Linked DNA regions of Homo sapiens. The protein of the gene in region 2 purifies or fractionates together with the protein of the main gene of each other region. This does not show direct contact. Each region holds a gene or a part of one and is shown on either strand. Other genes may lie near its edges.

Region 1 (3,652 bases), on a different chromosome or scaffold from region 2:
CCTGGGCAGCCAGGGCTACCACACTGGTGACAGTGCTGCTGGTACCTGTGATGGCTCTTCTGGTATCCATATCTTATACACAACACCTATCCGTAGGAAGAACTTCCGCAGAACTGCTCGGAGCTCAGGGATCAGGTCAAACTGCATAATTTCACACAAGTAGGGGTAGTACATTGAAGCATGTGCTTTGAACTTGAGGTGGGAGAGAAACAGATAAAATTAGACAATTTTTTTTTTTTTTGGGCACCAGTTTTTCAGAAGTGTTAATCTCACCCTGGAACTTATTACAATATTGGTGCTTTTCTTGCTATTAGAAAGTTGGGGCCGAGCGCAGTGATTCACGCCTATAATCCCAGCACTTGGGGAGGCCGAGGCAGGTGGATCGCTTGAGCTCAGGAGATCGAGACCAGCCTAGGCAACACGGTGAAACCCTGTCTCTACCAAAAATACAAAAACTTAGCTGGGCATAGTGGCGCGTGTCTGTGGTCCCAGCTACTCAGGAGGCTGAGGTGGGAGGATCGCTTGAGCCTGGGAGGCAGAAATTGCAGTGAGCTAGATTACGTCACTGCATTCCAGCCTGTGTGACAGACCAAGACTCTGTCTCAAAAAAAAAAAAAGAAGTTGAAGAAACCTTGCAAATTAAAGCTTCTTTCAGTTATATTTAACTTTAATTAAATTTGGATAGTCTTGCTGCCAAAAGTCAACAGCTCTTTTATTTTGTAAAGCAGGTTCCTAGGTCAAAACTGGTGCTTCACAATCTTAACCCTCTCTTCCTGCACTGAAACTCACCATACCATTCCTAACAGCAACACATGAGGTCTACACTTCAGCCGTTCTCAACTACTGTTCTTCCAGGCAAAAAGCCCTAATATCCTGTGGCACCCATTGTCCATAACGGATTAACTTCTCTCCAATGCATCTAGAATGGTGCTAGTCACGTAACCATCCTTGGGAGAACTGAGAAAATAGTTACTGCAAACTCTTGAGTAAAAAGCCAACCCAAACTTTATGTCCTAGTGAAAATTGGTCAGAGTTTACTTGTTCATACCTTTTCATCATTTATTTTGAGGGTTTTAGTTAGAAGTAACAACAAGAGACTTGTCCAGGCCTCCCGATGGCTCTCAGAATTCACAGTGATGAAATAGGCAAGAGCTTCACTGCAAACACTAGAAGAATTAGAGAGGGGGAGGCATATCAAACAATTGATTAACATCTCACATTCAGGGGAGAACTATTCATTCTTGTGCTATTTTTAAAATTATTTTAACATGTTTTTTTTAATTACTTTTTTTTTTTTGAGACAGGGTCTTGCTCTGCGGCCCAGGCTGGAGTGCAGTGGTGTGATCAAGGTTCACTGTAGCCTTGACCTCCTCGGGCTCAAGCTGATCCTCCCACCTCTGCCTCTGAAGCAGCTAACACTACATGCTTGCGCCACCATGCCTGGCTAATTTTTTTGATTTTTAGTAGAGATGGGGTTTCACCACGTTGCCCAGGCTGGTCTTGAACTCCTGGGCTCAGCAATCTGTCTGCCTTGGCTTCCCAAAGTGCTGGGATTATAGATGTGAGCCTGAGCCTCTGAGCCCAGCCACTGCAATAACTATTGAGCACCCACTCTGGCTGTGCTATCTTGGGCAAATCACTGAGCCTTAGTTTCTTCAGCTATAAAATGGAGATAAAAAATTGCCTGGCCAGGTGCAGTGACTCATGCCTATAATCCCAGCACTCTGGGAGGCCAACGCAAGCAGATCACTTGAAGCCAGGAGTTCGAGACAGCCCGGCCAATGTAGCAAACCCCCATTTCTACTAAAAATAGAAAAATTAGCTGGGTGTGGTGGTGCGTATCTGTAATTCCAGCTACTCAGGTGGCTGAGGCACAAGAATCACTTGAACTCAGGAGGTGGAGGTTGCAGTAAACTGAGATTGCACCACTGCACTCCAGCCTGGGCGATAGAGTGAGACTATCTCAAAAAAAAAAAAAAAAAAAAAAAAAAAAAGTCCAAACTCAAGGGGTTGTTGTGAGGATTAAATGAAGTAAATATGTTAAGTCATAACTTGGCTCAGTCCTGGCACATGGCTAGGGCTGAACTCAATCAATGTCTGTAGCACAAGAGCTTATTACTCATAATTATATAACTGCCTTTCTCTCCTCACAATCACATTTAATTGCTTTTTTAAAAAACATGCCAAAAACTTGACATTTACATATCTCTTTTTTTTATTTTGAGACGGAGTCTTGCTCTTGTTGCCCAGGCTGGAGTGCAACAGCACAATCTTGGCTCACTGCAACCTCTGCCTCCTGGGTTCAAGTGATTCTCCTGCCTCAGCCTCCCGAGTAGCTGGGATTACAGGCGCCTGCCACCATGCCTGGTTAATTTTTGTATTTTTAGTAGAGACAGGGCCATGTTGGCCAGGCTGGTCTCAAACTCCTGACCTTGTGATCCACCTGGCTCGGCCTCCCAAAGTGCTGGGATTACAGATGTGACCCACCGCGCCCGGCCCTACATATCTCCTTTAGAGAAACTTTATGAGACTGTAGGTATTTGTCTTTTGGGCTTAAGCTGAAATGAGCCATTGGTGCCTCCTTTAATTAATTAATTCTTTTTTCACTTTATGACTTGTTATTCTCATTGTAAGGTAACTGATATATGTAAAAAATTATGAAAAAAATTATAAAGAAAAATAGCTACATCATTCTAAGGGATACATGACAATATTTTGGCATATTTCCTTCCAGTTTTTTTTTTTTTTGCTAAGATTTCAAAAGAAAAATTGCTCGCCTGTAGTCCCAGCTACTCAGGAGGCTGAGGCAGGAAGAGCTCGTAAGCCCAGGAGTTCGAGACCAGCCTAGGCAACATAGCAAGACCCTGACTCTAAAAAAACAAATAAAATGCCCCAATTGCTGAAAATTCCAAGTAAAAACACTTTTGCAGCTTTTTTTGGGGTAAAAATTATTGTATTATGAAAAAGTTCCCACATTAAGTAAAATTATTTCTTAAAAATTTCACTTTTAGGCCGGGCGCAGTGGCTCACGCCCATCCCTGCACTTTGGGAGGCCGAGGTGGGGGGATCACGAGGTCAGGAGTTCAAGACCATCCTGGCCAATATCGTGAAACTTTGTCTCTACTAAAAACACAAAAATTAGCCAGGTGTGTGATGGCACACGCCTGTAGTCCCAGCTACTCGGGAGGCTGATGCAGAAGAATCACTTGAACCCGGGAGGCAGAGGTGGCAGTGAGCCAAGATCACGCCACTGCACTCCAGCCTGAGTGACAGAGCAAGACTCTGTCTCAAAAAAAAAAAAAAAAAAAAAAATTCACTTTTAGGCTGGGCACGGTGGCTCATGCCTGTAATCCCAGCACTTTGGGAGGCGGAGGTCGGCAGATCACCTGAGGTCAGGAGTTTGAGACTAGCCTGACCAACATGGTGAAACCCCATCTCCACTAAAAATACAAAAAACCAGCCAGGTATGGTGGCACGCGCCTGTAATCCTGGCTACTCAGGAGGCCGAGGCAGGAGAATTGGTTGAACCCAGGAAGTGGACCTTGCAGTGAGCTGAGATTGCACCACTGCACTCCAGCCTGGGCGACAGAGCAAGACTCCGTCTCAAAAAAAAAAAAAATTCACTTTTAATGACTATGTTTCATAATATCAT
Region 2 (3,652 bases):
AGGATGATGAGATAGATTTCAGAGGGAGGAAGTCAATTTGTTGAATAGATTGTGAAGCTCAGAAGGCACAGTAATCTGTGTTGTGCAAACCCTTATCAACTCCATTGGGGATGGCAGCATGTTCAAGAGGCTGAAAAACAGCCAGCAAGTGAGACATGAGGTTTCATTGAGGACCTACGTACAGGGCAGAGAGTCCGGGGGTAGAGGGCTGGGCAAGAGAACTGCAACCGCTTGCAAAAGGCATGCAGTTTATAAAGCATCTTCACTTAGTACTCTCCCACTGACAACCTCCACCTGGCAACCTTCATTTAATCCAAAAACAAAGGGCCTCAATCCCCTCTACGGCCCGTGTTCCACGGGACCGACCTGGGTGTCAGGTCTTCCTCATAGACAAGGAATGGATCTCTGGGCTGGCCACTCCCAGATTCCGTAGCTCAGATTTCCCAGCCACATTGGGGTGTGTGTGCCACCCAGGGTCATTTTGGGGTATGCTGATGTTATCGCTCTCAGGTGTATTTACTTCATAATTTGAAAGGCAAAGTGCTTTTGATTTGAAAAAGCAGGACCCCAGAGTGAAAGAAATTGTTTATCTTTTTAAGTTCCAAAAAGCACTGGTTTGGAAAAATCACAAAACAAGTCATGGAGGCCTAGAACGTAGCATTTACTGACTGAACTATAGGGTTTAGAAAGCATGCCATCCAACTACCTTTAGGGGAAAGAGGGCTTTTGTTACTTCCCAGGCAAAACATCACAAGACTGCAGCTCAATCAGGGGCTGGAGCAATGAGATGCCTGGGTGGAAACTGGCAACAGCTAAGGAAAATCTAGGTAGATAAGCCTGAGGGCAATCACAGAAACCTGAATACCCAGCCTGTGCGTGTCTGAGTCCTAACAGTGGCTCAGAAGCATTTGCTAAAAGGGGACTGAAAGAGGCTAACAGAGGACGAAGAGGGCCCAGGACACAGGGAAATTTTGAGCAGAGGTCACTACACAGACAATGGAACGAGCCACAGAAGCTTGAGCAATGCCCCAAAGGCCACAAGGGACTGAGCTACCCTTTAGTCTGAAGCCAATAATAGCAGATGATGGGTGTGAGCCAGATATCTCTTCCCAGTCGCTGGACAACAGGTAAACCCCTTTCTATTTCATTCCTTGGGAGGGTAGCTACACAGGGTGGAGAAAAAGAGTCTTTTTTCTGAGATGGAGTCTCGCCCTGTTGCCCAGGCTGGAGTGCAGTGGCGCGATATCGGCTCACTGCAACCTCTGCCTCCTGGGTTCAAGCAGTTCTCCTGCCTCAGCTGCCTGCGTAGCTGGGACTACAGGTGCATGCTACCACGGCTGGCTGAGGGGTCTTGAATCTGAATAAATACTTACCTAAATAAGACTAAATCTAAACATAGAAGTGATTGCAAGATCATCATTTTCTACCATGGTGGAAATGGAGGCTTTGAAAGCTAAATGGAATTCATTTCTAGAAAAATGAAGAAAGTTACATGTCTGATTCCTGAATTTGGCCTGCAGCTTTCAATCAACTGTAATAAGAGAATCTAGTCGCCTGCCTCTAAGGCAGTTTCTTCTCTGTAGGTCCTGGGATCTTGCTATGAAGTTAAAAAGGCTTCTTTGAATGGCATTCTTTTTGCTAGAGGATGAGGATCAGGGAAAAATGTTATAGAATCATGAATCACAAGATATCCATATTCCTATTTGAGAGACAGAATTGGCGCCAGAACCCAGGTCTACCAAGATGCATGGATGAACTCTGAAAGCCTCAAGACTCTTGAGGGATAAATTCAACCAAGCAGCATTGACGGGCCTGCCTTAGTAAAGAACATTTACTTCAGAGACAAGACGCACAGCACTGACATGTCTGATTATTATAATTTGCATCAGACTCAGCAAAGTTGTTGACTAGCACATGGCCTCAAGTGAATATTTCTGATTAAGGGAAGAAAAAGACATAATTAAGAGGTAATCGGCTGATGTGGTGGCTCACACCTGTAATCCCACCACTTTGGGAGGCTGAGGTGGGCAGATCACGAGGTCAAGAGATTGAGACCATCTTGGCCAACATGGTAAAACCCCATCTCTACTAAAACTACAAAAATGAGCTGAGTGTGGTGGCACACGCCTGTAGTCCCAGCTACTTGGGAGGCTGAGGCAGGAGGACCGCTTGAACCCAGGAGGTGGAAGTTGCAGTGGGCTGAGATCGTGCCACTGCACTCCAGCCTGAGGGCAGAGTAAGACTCCGTCTCAGAAAAAAAAAGGAAAAGAAAAAAAGAGGTAATCAATTACTAACATTGCACAGACTTTAGCTTCCTTTTCCCTTCCTGCTGCTTTTAAATTTTTTCTCCCTGAAGGGAGTATTCCTGGGGAGAAAAGTTGACTCATGCCTCTGTCCTTCCTGGCTCTCATTTGGGACGTGTTTAGCCTTGGAAGGAAGTCAAAGGACTGGCTATGTGATGGATACATCCTCTATTTCCTTTGCCTCATCAAAGGCACAGCCTTTCTGTCAATTTTCCTGGTACTAAGGGTGGGAAGGAGACCTATGACTACCATAATAAATAGCAGTAACTTTCTAATTGTTTACCTAAAATGCAACCCAGGAGTTGAATTTCATTAATCACCCTGACATTTTTGGGGTAGGAATTACATAAGGGACCTAGATTTTTGAATTATTTTAAATTTGGATATATTATGTATACAAACCTCTCCCCAGTAATAACAACTAACCACCATTGATTAGCATAATGTAACCTAAGAAAATAAATTTAACTAGATGTTCTTGAAATTGCCACAGGTAGGAAGCATTAGTATACGATATAATACCAAATCCACTTTGAGCCCACTATGACGTCTCCATTAGTGTCATAAAAGGTTTATGGCAAATTTATAAGAATATGTTGCGGTATCCTTTTTGTCTAATCCCAGAGGAGAGAAGAAAGCCAAAGGCCTGAAATTAATGATGTATATTTAGGCAGTCAGCTTACTGGATGCTGCCCCAAACCAAAAAATAGCTCTACATATGGAAAATTCCCAATCAGGGGAGGGGCTAGTGGAAAGAGACAAGGTTTTTATAAGTAGTTGAAACTGTCATTTAACTATTAATGACTTCTAAGTATTTATTGAAACCATCTTAAACATAAAAGTGAAAATCAAACCCTAAAACCAAGAAGTCTGATGTTCTCTGCTAAAAAACCTGGACAGTGAAATAATCTTTTAAGACAAATCAATGTCTTCATATAGCATGCACAATACATAAATTACCTGTGCCTCATGGCTTTCCATGTGCCTTCAATGTGAATTAGGTAAATCAAGAATAGTTATGGTTCCTATCATGAACCAGTTCTTTTTTTCTCCACTTTAAAATGTTCAGTCTATCTTTGGAAAACCACAAAATATGGCTGGAAGAGATACATATATTTTTTGAGACAGTCTCACTCTGTCGCCCAGGTTAGAGCTCAGTGGCTCGATCTTGGCTCAGTGCAGCCTCCGCCTCCCGGGTTCAGGTGATTCTTGTGCCTCAGCCTCTAGAGTAACTGGGACTACAGGCATGCATCACCATGCCCAGCTAATTTTTGTATTATTAGTAGAGACGGGGTTTTACCATGTTGGCCAGGCTGGTCTCGAACTCCTGACCTCAACTGATCCACCCA

What was found. The genes of interacting proteins can lie anywhere in the genome.
Region 1: the proteins of ITGA8 (region 2) and ARFGEF2 purify together in Homo sapiens (affinity purification with mass spectrometry; one large-scale study listed by BioGRID and IntAct). This does not show direct contact.

The regions. Positions count from the first base shown.
Region 1 is NC_000020.11:49,029,563-49,033,214, reverse strand, and holds part of ARFGEF2 (brefeldin A-inhibited guanine nucleotide-exchange protein 2), read right to left. Parts: intron 1,167-3,652; coding exon 1,049-1,166; intron 193-1,048; coding exon 16-192; 3' UTR 1-15. UniProt on the Homo sapiens protein: Promotes guanine-nucleotide exchange on ARF1 and ARF3 and to a lower extent on ARF5 and ARF6. Promotes the activation of ARF1/ARF5/ARF6 through replacement of GDP with GTP. Involved in the regulation of Golgi vesicular transport.
Region 2 is NC_000010.11:15,639,876-15,643,527, forward strand, and holds part of ITGA8 (integrin alpha-8 isoform 1 preproprotein), read right to left. Parts: intron 1-3,652. UniProt on the Homo sapiens protein: Integrin alpha-8/beta-1 functions in the genesis of kidney and probably of other organs by regulating the recruitment of mesenchymal cells into epithelial structures.